Homo sapiens: one gene and its partners. The protein of the gene in region 2 purifies or fractionates together with the protein of the main gene of each other region. This does not show direct contact. Each region holds a gene or a part of one and is shown on either strand. Other genes may lie near its edges.

The links. Proteins that work in one complex are often made in the same cells at the same time.
Region 1: the proteins of TTC27 (region 2) and PPP2R5D purify together in Homo sapiens (affinity purification with mass spectrometry; 2 studies listed by BioGRID and IntAct, with this or other methods). This does not show direct contact.
Region 3: the proteins of TTC27 (region 2) and NCDN purify together in Homo sapiens (affinity purification with mass spectrometry; 2 studies listed by BioGRID and IntAct, with this or other methods). This does not show direct contact.
Region 4: the proteins of TTC27 (region 2) and AAR2 purify together in Homo sapiens (affinity purification with mass spectrometry; 3 studies listed by BioGRID and IntAct, with this or other methods). This does not show direct contact.

What each region holds. Positions count from the first base shown.
Region 1 is NC_000006.12:43,005,070-43,008,569, reverse strand, and holds part of PPP2R5D (serine/threonine-protein phosphatase 2A 56 kDa regulatory subunit delta isoform), read right to left. Parts: intron 2,125-3,500; exon of another isoform or gene 2,108-2,124; coding exon 1,891-2,107; intron 1,660-1,890; coding exon 1,460-1,659; intron 1,375-1,459; coding exon 1,264-1,374; intron 1,157-1,263; coding exon 1,064-1,156; intron 636-1,063; coding exon 505-635; intron 370-504; coding exon 310-369; intron 204-309; coding exon 95-203; intron 1-94. UniProt on the Homo sapiens protein: The B regulatory subunit might modulate substrate selectivity and catalytic activity, and might also direct the localization of the catalytic enzyme to a particular subcellular compartment.
Region 2 is NC_000002.12:32,669,550-32,673,049, reverse strand, and holds part of TTC27 (tetratricopeptide repeat protein 27), read right to left. Parts: intron 779-3,500; coding exon 666-778; intron 1-665.
Region 3 is NC_000001.11:35,560,799-35,564,038, reverse strand, and holds part of NCDN (neurochondrin), read right to left. Parts: coding exon 2,745-3,240; intron 1,648-2,744; coding exon 1,406-1,647; intron 838-1,405; coding exon 613-837; intron 273-612; coding exon 130-272; intron 1-129. UniProt on the Homo sapiens protein: Probably involved in signal transduction in the nervous system, via increasing cell surface localization of GRM5/mGluR5 and positively regulating its signaling. Required for the spatial learning process.
Region 4 is NC_000020.11:36,253,478-36,257,433, reverse strand, and holds the end of AAR2 (protein AAR2 homolog), read right to left. Parts: intron 1,857-3,956; coding exon 1,689-1,856; 3' UTR 501-1,688; downstream 1-500. UniProt on the Homo sapiens protein: Component of the U5 snRNP complex that is required for spliceosome assembly and for pre-mRNA splicing.

The DNA.
Region 1 (3,500 bases), on a different chromosome or scaffold from region 2:
TCCCTATGCTTCCCCTATCCCAGCTGGAACACTTTCCTGCCGGCTCTTTTCTCTGCTGCCTGAGTTGGACATTATAAGGAGGAAGGCAGCTCACCTGAGGGTGGTAGACACTCAGGGACTTGACCTTGTGAAGGGGAAGTAGGACACGGATGAGGAACATCTTGTGCTCTTCTTTAAGGGGCAGGGCAAAGCCATTGATGATGCTAGGAATTAAGGGACATTTGTTAGGACCAGAGGGTCAGATCCAAGTTCAGTACACCAATCCTGCCAACCTTTTTCAGGCATCTGTGCCCCCACCCGGCCTCTCACCTGCCCAGGATCTCCAGGAGCTCAGCAATCCCGTTGTGATGCTCCGTCTCGTAGATGAACCTGAGGGAAGAAAAATGGCTCTCTTGACAACCCCTGATGTCCCTCCAGCATTCTGTACAGTCCCCCCACCTCCCTGCTCCCACCCCACCTCAGTAGCAGAAGGTTTTGCTCCTAAGCCTGGGCTCCTGGCCTCACCTGTAGAAGATGTGGTTGATCTGCCTACGGATATAAGCCCGGAGCCCCAAAAACTTGCCATAGATGCGATGCAAAATGGTCTTGAGGAAGTCCCGCTCTCGAGGATCCTCACTGTCAAATAGGTCTAGGAGCTGGGGGTACAAGGGAGGGAAAGCAGCCAGTGAGGCAGCAGCCAGGGAAGGCAGTGGCCAGGGTGACATAGGTCCCGCCAGGGGAAATGCAGAGGTCCCCTGGAGTGGGGGCCAGCAAGTCTTAGAAAGCAGTGATTCTATTATATTGCTGATTCTATTGTATTTGTACTGAGACTTCCAAAGTGATGCCTCACTATTGACCTGAGAGAGGTACTCTGTTGCTTTTTTGTTTCCTACCATTATGTTGTTAGTTTCTTAAGGCCAGAGTAGGGTTTTGTTTTGTTTTGTTTTTTACCCTTTATAGCCTCCTCGTACCAGACATGGATGAAACCCAATATATTCAGCTTAAGGGGAAAGAGCCACTGGGACACAGATGAAGGGGGCATGGAATGGAAAGAGAGGGCAAGGACAGGAACTCGGGGACTCACAGCAAGTACAAACTTCTGGTCGATGTACTTCTTGGCTATGTTTGGCTGGAAATCAGGAGACTCAAGGAAACGTAAGAAGAACTCATACACGAGCTATAGGGGAAAAGGCACGCCACTGAGGGGATGTTCCCAAGGACTTGCAGGCCTCCAAGTGCCCCACTCCCTGCAGCCACGGCCAATCTGCCCCCTTGCCCTGGTACCTGGAGATGTGGCCAAGCAGCTTCCAGGGTGGGCTCATCTTCCTCTGGGTCAAACTCAGCCCCTGTGGGATTCGATGAAGGTGGCAGCGTCCGGAAGAGGTTCACTGAAAACTGAGGGGTAGGGCCAGTTAGAGCTCCACCTGGGCTTCTCCAGAGCCCCTCACCAGTCCCCCCTGTGTCCTTTCCCTGTGCCCACCATGGTGACAGCCTCAGGGTAAATGGCCTCAGTGACAACATCACGGCTATGGGTGATGTACTCCACCATCTCGTTGAGTCCTGCCCGCTTCACCTCCTTGAATTTGAGGTCACTGAGTGGGTCTGACACGAAGTCAAAGAGGACACAGCACTGGCGTAGCTTCTGGATAAACAGCTCCTCCCGCTCCTGGGTTGGCGAATCTGTGGGGGCCCCAGCAGTCAGGTTCTCCTCTGTAGTCCTTCACTGCGATGCCCTGCTTGCCTTCAAGGGCTTTCCCTTACCCCACCCTGCCACCATCCTGCTCCCTGGCACCCCCTTCCCGCATTCTCTGGAACTCCCTTCCCCGCAAAATACCCCAAAACTTCCATTCCACCAACTCCCGATGCCCACTAGAACTGGTAAAACAGCCCCTGTGACCAATTGCCAAGTACCTTTCAGGGCAGGAAGCTTCTGCAGCTCCCGATTCTTGCTGAGGTTGAAGCGGGAGGAGCTTTGCCGTCGCTCCTTCTTGACAATCTGGGGCCCCCCTGAGTACTTGATTTTGCTGAGCTGCGTGGGGGGCGGCGTGCTATTGCTGGGACGCTTGTTGGATGACGGTGGCTGAGACTGGGCTTGGGGCTGGGGCTGGGGCTGGGGCTGCGGCTGGGCCTGGTCAAACAAGTCACCTGTTGAAATCCACTTCCCAAGATATGCCTCCCACCCTGGGCCTGGCCATCCCCAAGTCTGTTTATGCCTGCACAGGCCTGGGCAGTGAGCAGCTGTCTCCTGCCCCGAAGGAGCTAAGGCCAGGGTTACAGAGATAACTGTGCTGTAGCCCTGGCAGGGAGCAGTCAAGAAGTCACATCACCCAAAGAGATGCCCACTGCTTGTGCATCAAGAGCCTTTAAAACGTTCATTCCAGTTCATGAACAGGTAAAGCTAATTGATAGATTGATGGTGACAGAAGTCAAAAAAGTGATTACGTTGCCAGGGGAAATGGGGTGGGTATTGCTAAGAAGACACATGATGAATAAGAAGACACATGAGGAATAAGAAGAGACATGAGGAGCCTTCTGAGTAATGTAAACATCCTGTATCTTGACTGGACCTGCAAGGTGGTGCATGGCAGATACATACCTAAAATTTATTGAGCAGTACACTTAAGATCCTTTACTGAATGTATGACAGTCTCCAATCAAAAGGTAGAAGAGGCCGGGCGCAGTGGCTCACACTTGTAATCCCAGCACTTTGGGAGGCCGAGGAGGGCAGATCACCTGAGGTCAAGAGTTCAAGACCAGCCAGGCCAACATGGTGAAACCCCATCTCTACTAAAAATACAAACATTAGCCAGGCGTGGTGGCAGGCGCCTGTAATCCCAGCTACTTGGGAGGCTGAGGCAGGAGAATCGCTTGAACCCAGGAGGCGGAGGTTGCAGTGAGCCGAGATCATGCCATTGCACTCCAGCCTGGGGGACAAGAGCGAGACTTTGTCTCAAAAAAAAAAAACAAAACAAAAGGTAAAAGAAAGGCCAGGCACAGTGGCCAAAGCCTGTAATCCCAACACTTTGGGAAGCCAAAGCAGGAGGATTACTTGAAGCCAGAAGTTTGAAACCAGCCTGAACAACGTAGCAAGACCCCATCTCTACAAAAAATTTTTTTTAATTAGCCAGGTGTGGTGGCACATGCCTGCAGTTCCAGCTACTCAGGAAGCTTACTGGAGTTCCAGCTACTCAAGGTTGGAGGATCCCTTGCGCCCAGGAGTTCAAGTCTCCCATGAGCTATGATCACACCAACTGCACTCCAGCCTGAACAACAAAACAACACTGTCTCTAAAGATAAAAATTTTCAAATTTAAAAAGGTAAAAGAAAGAAATTCATTCCCATGTCTTAGGACTTTACTAGAAATTTAGCTTAATAAAAATCCTAAATTAAAAAAAAAAAGCTTTGGAGGAGACAGAGGTAGCCAGGCAAAAAGAAAAAAAAAAAAAAAAGCTTTGTGCACAAATACTTTTAACAACCTCATTTATAACAGAAAATGAATAAATGGAATATCAGGAGTTAAT
Region 2 (3,500 bases):
ATATATTCTAGACTGGATCTTTTCTAAAAGAGAGTATCTGAACAACTAGCAAAATTTGAATGGGGTCTGAGAATTAAATGATAGCAAAGTACCAACATTAATTTTCTGATTTTGATAGCTGTATTGTGACTATGTACAAAAATAACATTATTTGTTGGAAATATACACTAAATTATTCAGGAATGATACAGCATCATCTTGGAAACTTATTCTTAGAAGTTATATGTATTGTCCTGCCCTTAAACATTTTTCACAAATTTGAAATTATTTCTAATCAGAAAAAAAAGTTAAAACTATTTCCACCATAGATAAGGTTCCACAGTATTAAAAAATAATCCTATCCTTTGAAATGTAAATATCCTCAAATCTCAAAATAGTCATTCTCATTTGTCTTTAATATTTTATTAATAATCTATTCCTAGCTAAAGCTAACCAAAGAAATTGTGCTTATAAAGGAAACAGAAGAATAGATATATCAACTCATTGGAGATTTGTAATATCTAACCCTTTAATTGGTTCTCCAAGTATTTCCTCTGATCTTCATAAGCACTACAAAATTCCCTATTCATCCAGAACTCTTGGAACCTCCTTGAATAAAGATTCTCCACACATAAGAGAATCAATATGCAAAGTGTTCAAAGCAGCCAAGTCAGTCATTAACTCACCAGATTCCAAGAATAATAGCGATCTCTTCAGCACACAGATCCGGCATCTGGAACTGTTCACAATCTGCTAACTTTATGTCATTCAGAATGGTGTCATCATTGAGCTCAAGATTCTAGTAGAATACAAAAGAAAATACTTAGACCAAAAATTAAATTTTATTCATTCACCAGAATGGCATGTAATAGATTGCTAGAAAGGATAAAGTTAACTTACCTGTTTGACATATGGTCAATAGGCTATTTCTTGTGAAACACATATTTGGAAACAATTTACCTTCCAGAAATGAAAGATGTGCCATCTATACCTCAAGAATGCACTAACAATGACAATAATAGGGAATAACAGCTATCACTGATTGAGCCAAGTATGCAAAAGCCCCTCTGCAGATAATTTTATATACATTTTTCAAATTCTTCCTCACAACAATCATAGACAATAGGCATTTCTATCCTTATTTACTGATGAAAAAACAAAGAATCAGATACTTGAAGCTCATCCAAGATCACACTCAAAGTATGTGATAGCATCAGGATTCAAAACTGGATCTTTCTATTCTGCCTCTAAATTCTAATCAAAAACATCAACTTCCCAACTCTGTGTCTCAGCAATATAGTGTGATCAGTTGAGAAATTTCTCACAAATAGCTTGTTATCAATGATGGAAATGCCAAACTGTGACAAGCTCATTCTAAAATTTATATGGAAATGCAAATGATCGACAATAACCAAAACAATTTTTAAAAGAATAAAATATGAGGAAGTACTTGATTTCAAGAATTACTATAAAGCCCAGACAGTATAGTACTGGCATAAAGACAGACATATAAAGTGAATGGAATAGAATACAGTTCAAAATTTTAGACCCATGCATATATGATGGATTGATTTTCAATATAGCTACCTAGGTGTTTCAACAGGTAAAGCCTTTCAATAAATGAAATTAGAGAACTTTGGGAGGCCAAGGTGGGAGGAAGCTTGAGGCCAGGAGTTTGAGATCAGCCTGAGTAACACAGCAAGACCCTGTCTCTCCAAAAAATAAGTAAGTGAATGAATGATGTCAGAACAACTGGATATCCATTTGGAAAAAAAAATGACCCTTCACGTTTATCTCAATCATACACAAAAATTAAATCAAAATTAATCACAGACCTTAATATACAAGCTAAAGCTAAAAAAACTTCTAGAAGAAAACATTAAAAAAAACTTTGTAACCCTGAGATGGAAAGGCAGTCAGTCCTTAATTAGGATACAAAAAGTATGAATTATAAGAGAAAAACTTCATAAATTAGACTTCATCAAATTAAAAACTTCTGTTCTCTGAAAACATTGTTAAGACAAAAAGTCAAGCTCCAGATCCAAATATACTGACAAAACATATATCTGAAAAGGGACTTGCATCCAGAATATGGAGAACTCTTAGAACTCAATAAGAAGACAAACAACTCAAATTAAAAATGGGCAAGAGAGGCCAGGCATGGTGGCTCACGCCTGTAATACCAGCACTTTAGGAGGCCAAGGTGGGTGGATCACTTGAGGTCAGGAGTTCGAGACCAGCCTGGCAAACATGGCAAAAACCCCGTCTCTACCAAAAATACAAAAATTAGCCAGGCATGGTGGCGTATACCTGTACTCCCAGCTACTCGGGAGGCTGAGGCAGGAGAATCACTTGAACCCGGGAGGTGGAGGTTGCAGTAAGCTGAGATCATGCCACTGCACTCCAGCCTGGGCAATAGAGCGAGATTCCATTTCAAAAATAAAAAAAGAAGAGAAAAAAAAAAACTTACGTTCACACAAAGACTTACATACATATTTTCTAGGCAGGTTTATTAGTAATACCTGCTAGAAATAACTTAAATGTCCACCAACAGTTCATATTGGTATTTCAACATGGATGAATCTTGAAACCATTAAGCCAGACCAAAAGATTATACACTGTATGATTCCATTTATTGGAAATTCTAGAAAAGACAGATCTAATCTATGACAGCAACTGACTGACTGCAAAGAACTATGGCGGCACTCTTTGGAGAAACTTTTTTTCATTGTGGTGGTGGTGACACGCGTCTAATTGTTAAATCTCAACAAAGTGTAATTTAAAATCGGTATATTTTATATAAATTATTCCTCAATAATCTTGGGTTAAATTTTTTTCTAATTCAACAACAACAAAAAAAGAGGACTTTAGGAGCCAAATGAAGCTAGACAGAAGCCAGGTGCGGTGGCTCATGCCTGTAATCCCAGCACTTTGAGAGGCTGAGGCGGGCGGATCACCCGACGTCAGAAGTTCGAGACCAGCCTGGCCAGCATGGTGAAGCCTCGTCTCTACTAAAAATACAACAACTATCCGGGCGTGGTGGCATGTGGCTGTAGTCTCAGCTACTCGGAGGCTAAGGCAGGCTACAGAATGAGACACCATCTCAAAAAAAATAAAAAATAAAAAAATTAAAATACATATTTTCACATTGTAACATTTCTTTCTTTTCTTTTTTTTTTTTTTTTTTGAGAAAGTCTCACTTAGTCACCTAGGCTGGAGTGCAGTAGCATGATCTCGGCTCACTGCAACCTCCACCTCCTGGGTTCAGGCGATTCTCCTGCCTCAGCCTCCCAAGTAGCTGGAATTACAGGCACACACCACCACGCCCGGATAATCTTTTCTATTTTTAGCAGAGATGGGGTTTCGGCATGTTGGCCAGGTTGGTCTCGAACTCCTGACCTCAAGTGATCCTCCCACCTCGGCCTCCCAAAGTGCTGGGACTACAGGCGTGAGCCACCACACCGGGCCATGTTGTAACATTTCCAATCAGGATATGTTTTGTAATCACTATAAATGGTATA
Region 3 (3,240 bases), on a different chromosome or scaffold from region 2:
CAAAGATTTCCTCTTGCTTAGAAAATGCTGCAAAACCATCTTCTAAAAATGGTGACTTTTGCCCCAAACACAGGAGGTCCACCCAGGTCTTCTGTCCTCACCCATCAGGACTGGATCCCCAGTTCTTACCTGGAGAGGTGCTAAGGAGCCGGGCCATGAGGAGCCCCAGGGTGGCCACATTAGCAGCCAGAAGCAGCCTTCCCTGTTGCTGCACTAGTGCTGGTAGCGACGTCATGAGGGTGTTCATTAGAGATGTGAAGCAGGCGTCACGCCTGGAAAAGAAAGGGGGGAAGGATGGAGGTAGGTGGGGGTCTAGTACAGCCAAATCAAGCCCTTGGCAAGAAATTAGGCAGTAGGGTGATTAACTTTGGGCCCCAAACATAGCATCTGGGGGGCAGAGATTGGAACAAGCAGACATGCTGAGACAGTACCTGGGGGTTCCAGCATGCCGAATCCTTGTGCGGGGCTGGCTATGTCTACTCTGAGACCCCCATGCTACCACTAACAAATCCATGGGCATGGGGGGCAAAGTAGGAGACTGAGAATTGAGGCAACTGGGCAGCCTCCTTTGCCTCCTCCGGCCTCCTCCCCCACCTCTCCCGAGCCCCTCACTTGATCAGCCCCGGTGCGGTGACCACGAGGTTGAGGAAGATGTGGCAGCAGGTCTGCAGGCCAATCTCCACGCTGTCAGGCAGCACCGAGGTGTCGTGGCCAGGGGATGTGAGTTCCCACTGCTGCAGGAAATACTTGCACAGAAGCGAGGGGGCCCCTTCCTTGATCAGGATCTCCCGGGGCCCATCTTCAACGGTCAGGTGGCACCAGCCAGGCAGGAGGAGCCTGGGGATGTGGAAGGGACAGACGTGTGTGGGATTGGGAGAGATGAAGGCACATAGATTCCCTTTTTAGGGCACCTTGCCTAAGAGAAATGGAAGTAGGGGAGAAGGACACATCCTCGCAGGTACCACAGAAAAAGTACAAGCTTCAGAGTCGCACAACCCAGGACCAAACTTGGGCTCTGCCACAAAGTGTGACTGTGGGCAAGTGACTTTAATCTCTATGAGCCTCAGTTTCCTAATCTTTCATATGTGAATGAGACTTCTGTTATATTTACCACGTGGACCAAATGAGATCATTTTGGTAAAGGGTATAGCAAAATACCTGGCTCGTAGTAGGTGCTCAATAAGTATAAGTTCTCTTTTAACTGAGAAATCTGGGGTTGGCAAGTGACACCTGGCAGCCGAGGAGTCCTGTGGGAACAAGCCCCCCAAAACAGAAATAACCCTAAGGGATATCTCATGGCCCAATCAGGAAGCCTGGCACAGCTCAGTTTGTGGGGAGGGGTGTCCTTGTGTTAACGCTTTTCGGTAGAATGATCTAGCTGGACAGACTGTAACTACAGACTCACCGGAGAGCGTCTCCTGGCCAGGTGGGCCCTGGGGTGGTGGGGGAGATGGCCAGGTTGGCCACCTGCTGGGAAAGGTCATTGGCCTCCTCGGCCTCCTCGTAGAGGGTCTTGGCATAGCGGACGAGGAAGGGCAGCAGCTGGCACACCTCCTTACGCAAGGATGAGGTCTCCTCGGCCAGCCAGGCACCCAGGATCCGCACCGAGGCAAACACAAAGGGCTCCTTCTGCTTCTCTGACCCCACCTGTTGCCACAGGACCCCCTTGAGATGGAGCAGGACCAGGGACCCTCCCTGCCTTGCCAGAGGCCAGCCAGCTAGAAATAATACAACTAGAAGGAAATTCTGGCCTGTGAGCCTTTCAAAGGCAGGCCCCAACCTTTATTCTGTCCCATGAACCCAGCACCTAGCATGTGGTAGGGACGCACACAAGGGACTGGCACAGAGTGAGCCAGGCCCTCCACACACGTCTGCTGAGTGAACTGGGCCTGAGTGAATTGAGTGACATGCCCCCGTACTCGCTGAGGCTCCAGTCACATCTCCCTAACTCCCTACCTCTGGAGTGTCTCAAGGCTAGAAGGAAATTCATAGGTCAAAAGCTAAGTTAAACACCCTTTACAGCAGCTCTGACCTGGGGTGGGAGGGCAGGTTCCTGGCTACTGTGTAACTGCTCCCAATGGTGGGAGTGAGGGGATGCTCTCTTTTGTGCTAAGTCAGAAAAAAGACATGAGCTTAGCGTGGTGCATGGAATATATGGCTGGTGAGCTCGGTGGCTGGAGCAGGCCATTAAAGAGACCAGAGTCATGACTGAATCCCTGTGGGACAGGACAGCTGGCCTCTCAGGCGGGGAGGCAGGAGGGGATGTAGGGGAGGCAGGCGAATTGATCTAGCCAGACCTCTATAGAGGCCAGGAACCAGGCAGCCCTGCTTCTCTTCCCTGCACCATTAGAAGTTCGGGTGTGTGCGTGTATAAAACAATGCTATGGAGTGAGCAGAACAGACTGCTTCAATCTTGTGTGCATGTGTTGGGGAGAGGTGTGTGGCGTGTAGTGTGTGTGTATTGGGGGGAGCGTTTGAGTGGGAGGTTACTGTGTTGTGTGTGTGTGCGTGTGTGTGTACTGTGATGTGAGTGCACATATGGTGTGTGGTATGGTGCTTGTGTGGAGGGAGGGAGAGAGAGGGAGGTTGGGCCGCACACTACTCCCTGGAGTGCTGGCTACAGTATCAGCTTGTGTGGACATGCAGCTTCGCTGTCTCCCCATTATTCTCCTCCCCCTTGCCTCCCAGCTCCAGCACTGGCTCCCCCCATACTGGGCCCCCTCTGTGGGTCACTGCACCCTCACCTGCAGCAGGTAGTGGATAACAGCCCCTATGGCCTCCTTCATGACGCTCACGAGCTGCACCTTCTGTGGCTCCTTAAGCAGTGACTGCTCACAGCGAGTGCATTCCTGGATCCCCAACTCCATGAGGGCATAGCAGGCGGTCACCACATCCTCTTTCACCTCCGTGCCCGTCTCCTCCAGTGCCAGCCGCACTTCCACGCACGCCAGATTCACCAGCAGGGCCAGGAACTTGCTCCCGGAGCTGCCCGCCGGGATCCAGTCGGAGCCGCAGGCGTGTGCCAGGCGGGCTGCCAGCTTCAGTGCAGGGTTGCGCTGCCAGGAGCTCAGCTTGCTTCCCAGGATGCGTGCCAGCCCGGCCTGCAGATCCCGGTAGCATTCAGGGGGCACGGTTGTCGGGGGCAAAAAGAGGGGCAGCAGCTGGCAGAGCTCAAACTTGCTGGCATCCTCAGCTTTCTGGAAATCCTCACTGAGGCCCCGCAACACGGCCAGCAGGTCG
Region 4 (3,956 bases), on a different chromosome or scaffold from region 2:
CAGCAGTCACTGCCATTCCATACTGTCTTATTCTCTGGTAACCGCTAATTGACTCTCCCTCTTTGTGGATTTGTTTCTAGTGGACATGCCACGTGAATGGAATCACATAATAGGTGGTCCTTGTGTCTTTGACTTAGCACATTCTCAAGGTTCATCCGTGTTGTAGCATGTATCAGGACTTCACTCCTTTAAAGATACAGTTTTCACAAGCTCCCCAGCTAGTTCTGATGAGTGGGCTTTGGGAGAAAAAGAGGAGCCAATTCATATCAGGTGATTCTTGGGTTATTATTGAGACATGGGGCCTCATCCCTTCTTCCTTGTGTGCCTGTCTCAGGGGCCTCAAGAGGAACAGGAGGAACACTGGCTGCCTGCCTCTTCCAGACTCCAGAGGTTGGGCAAGTCTCCCATACACTGGAGGGAGGTGTGTGTCTATGGACAGTAGCCTGGCTGCTCTGGAGATCAGGCGGATTAACTGCAAGAGACACACACACACAAGGGGATTGTCTCAACTCGAAGACTTTAATGTACATTATGCTCTTGGAAAAACATCTCCAAGGAAACAAGTGGAAGCAAAAGTCTCAACCAGCAGGGATTCTCATTCAAAAACATGGTGTGAGCCCCAGTCTTGGAAAAGGATGGCACAGGGACTGTGATCATAGTACAACAGTTTGATGTCAGGGTGGCAGGGCCTGTGTACTTGTCTAGAGAGGAACCCTGCCACACAGCACGAAGGACTCCCGAGGAACCAGGAGCTCATTACTCCGGTGACTGACAGCTCCACAGCGGGACTGGGAAGATTTAGGCTGACCAGGTCTTCTTCAGCACTTGGAAGGCACAAAACTTCGTAAAGGCCTTAAGAAGCCTGCTCTGGGCAGAAACCTTTCTGGTTGTTGTTGACTCTCCAGGTCATCAGAAACAGTCACGGTGGCTCTGGTGAGGAAGGGGAGGGTCCCACTTCTGGGTGAGGCCTCGGAATGGAACAGGTGGGAGGTGACAGCACCAGCAAGGCCTCTGAGGCCAGGGTCCACACCCACCTTGGGAGATGACCCACTGGGCCTCTGGACAGGAGAATGGGATTTCGATGGAGAAAGCTGAAGCTGACCACCTGCTAGATTGAATCCAGCTGCCTCCCTTGAAACTCTCTTCCCAATCAAGGGCTCCCAAGGAGCTGCAGGCCAAGTCCTCTGCTCCTATTTAGCAAGAGGCAGGCGGCAATTCGGGCTGATCTCCCCATCACCCTTCATTTAACCGCAAAAAAAGTCACCAACCAACTTCTCAGACCCCCTGGGCAATCCAGGGTTTCTTGTTTCCTAAGCTCCTATGGAACAAGCAATCAGTTCTTTCTTGGACTTTTGGTTCAATTCCTTCTCATTCAGAGGAAATATGGTTGCCGTGTAGGCAGATGTCTCCTAGGAGCGTGTGTGTGTAAGAGCCTGTGTGAAATTCAGCCAGGTTAGCACCAAGGCCTGGCTGATGGGGAACCCACAAATGTGCCTTCAGGATGGGTACAGCCTCTTTGGCAATGAAGAAATATATTTATCAGTGAAAAAGGGAATTCTGGCTCCATCTTTGCAGGACCTGGAGAGATTGCTGCCCTGGCAGGTCCCAGGATGGGAAGAAGTAAATGGAGAGGCCAGGACTGCAGCCCTGTGGGAAGGGGCCCCTCGCAGCTGAGAGCGCTCCCCGAGTTAGCCCATCTCGATGCCCTCAGGGAGCTCCACCACCACCGGGGCACAGTCCTCAGGTTCCGCAGCAAAGTCCCACCGGAACTTCTTGGTCAGGTGAGCTTGGAACTTTTCAGCTTTCTTTCTCAGGGTGGCATCCACGGCAATGCTGCAGGCAGAGGAAAAGAAAACCTACAGAGAACAGAGGATAAGTCACTCCTGAGAAGACGGAGGGCAGGGGGCGAGAAAGCTGTGGAAATTTCCTCATGGTGTTCGGCTCTTCTGGGGCGGGTAGATCAGCTGCTGCTGGCATAGGCCCAGGACACCTGCTATGCTCCCCCCAAACCAAGAAAGAAGGTCCAAACCCAGCTGAGATGCTAGGGCAGGACTAGAATGGAAAATTACTATCTGGGCAGAGGCTGGGGGCCATTACCCTGGCTCCACCCCCTGGGGGGTTCTACTGGACACCCGGGCAGTAACCCAGAGGAACAGGTAGTAGCTACACCAGTCGGTACTAAGGTCCTAAGAAAGGCTTGGGGGTGCTTATAAGCCCCTGGATCCCATAAAGTCCCAGGCCCCAAGCCAACACGACTGAATTGCTGCTCTAATCTTCTAAATGGGCCACAGGCTGCCAGTTTGAGGCTTCTATCCCCCTTAAAAGCTGTCTTTGATTTTTTTTTTAATTGTGGTAAAATATACAGATGGACCCTGACTTACATTCAATTTATGACACTTCGACTTTATGATGATGCAAAGTGATACACATTCAGAAGAAGCTGCACTTTGAATTGTTTCTTTCAGTACAGTATTCAAGAAATTACATGAGATATTCAACACTTCCTTATAAAATAGGCTTTGTGTTAAATGATTTTGCACAACTGTAGGCTAGTGTTAGTGTTCTGAGCACGTTTGAGGTGGGTGAGGCTGAGCTACAATGTTAGGGACGTTAGGTGTAATCAATGCATTTTTTACTTACGGTATATCTGATTTACAGTTTATTAAGACATAACCCCATGTGAAGCTGAGGAGCATCTGTACATAAGATCTACCATTTCAACCATTTAAAAATATTTTTATTTTTTAAACTGTGGCAAAATATACATATTATTTTAGCCATTTTAAGTGTACAGTTGAGTAGCATTAAGTACACTGACACTGTTGTACAACCATCACCACCATCCATCTTCAGAATGACCCCATCATCCCCGGCCAAAACTCTGCAGCCATTAAACAGCAACTCCCCCTTCCCTCTTCCCTCCAGGCCCTGGCAACCCACATTCTACTTTCCAACTCTGTGAATTCGACTACCCTATCCCCCTTCCCTCCTCCCACCAGGCCCTGGCAACCCACATTCTACTTTCTGTCTCTATGAATCTGACTACTCTAGGCACCTCATCTAAGTGGAATCATACAGCATTTGTCCTTTTGCAACTGGCTTATTTCACTTAGCATAATATCCTTCAAGGTTCATTAATGATGCAGCATGTGTCAGAATTTCCTTTCTTTTGAAGGCTGAATAATATTCTGTTGTATGCAGATACCACATTTTGTTTGTCTAGTCATCTGTCAATGCCTATTTGTGTTGTTTTTACCTTCTGGCTATCGTGAATAATGCTGCTATGAACATGGGTGTACACATATCTCTTAGGGTCTCTGCTTTCAGTTCTTTTGCACAGAAACCCAGGAGTGGAGCTGTTGGATCATACGGGAACTCCCTGTTTAAATTCTGATGAACTGCCACAGTTTTTCACAGGGGCCGTACCATTTTATATTCCCACCAGCAATGCACAAAGGTTCTCATTTCTCCACATCCTGGCCAACGCCTGTTATTTTCTCTGTGTGTTTAAATCATGCCATTCTAATAGGTAGGAGGTAGTATCTTACTGCAGTTTGGATTTGCATTTCCCTAATGATCAGTGGATATTGAGTATGTTTTCATGTGCACATTGGCCATTTGTATATCTTCTTTGGTGAAATGTCCATTCAACTTCCTTGCCCATTTGTAAATTGGGTTGTTTTTGCATTGTTGAGTTGTAGGAGTTCTTTATATATTCTGGATATCAACCCCTTATTCTGATGCTCTCATGAACAGTTTCATTTAATACAAACATGGGCAGGGGAGCAGAATGGTAATTTTTTCCACATCTGAAACCCCATTCCAGATTGTCCTGGATCCCAGTCCCTCCCTAAGAGTAATAGCAAACCCATGATTCCTTCTTATACTATTTTACTGTTTTCAAAGAAGTTTCACAGAGCATCCAACTGGATCCTCCCAATACCCTGGAAAGATAC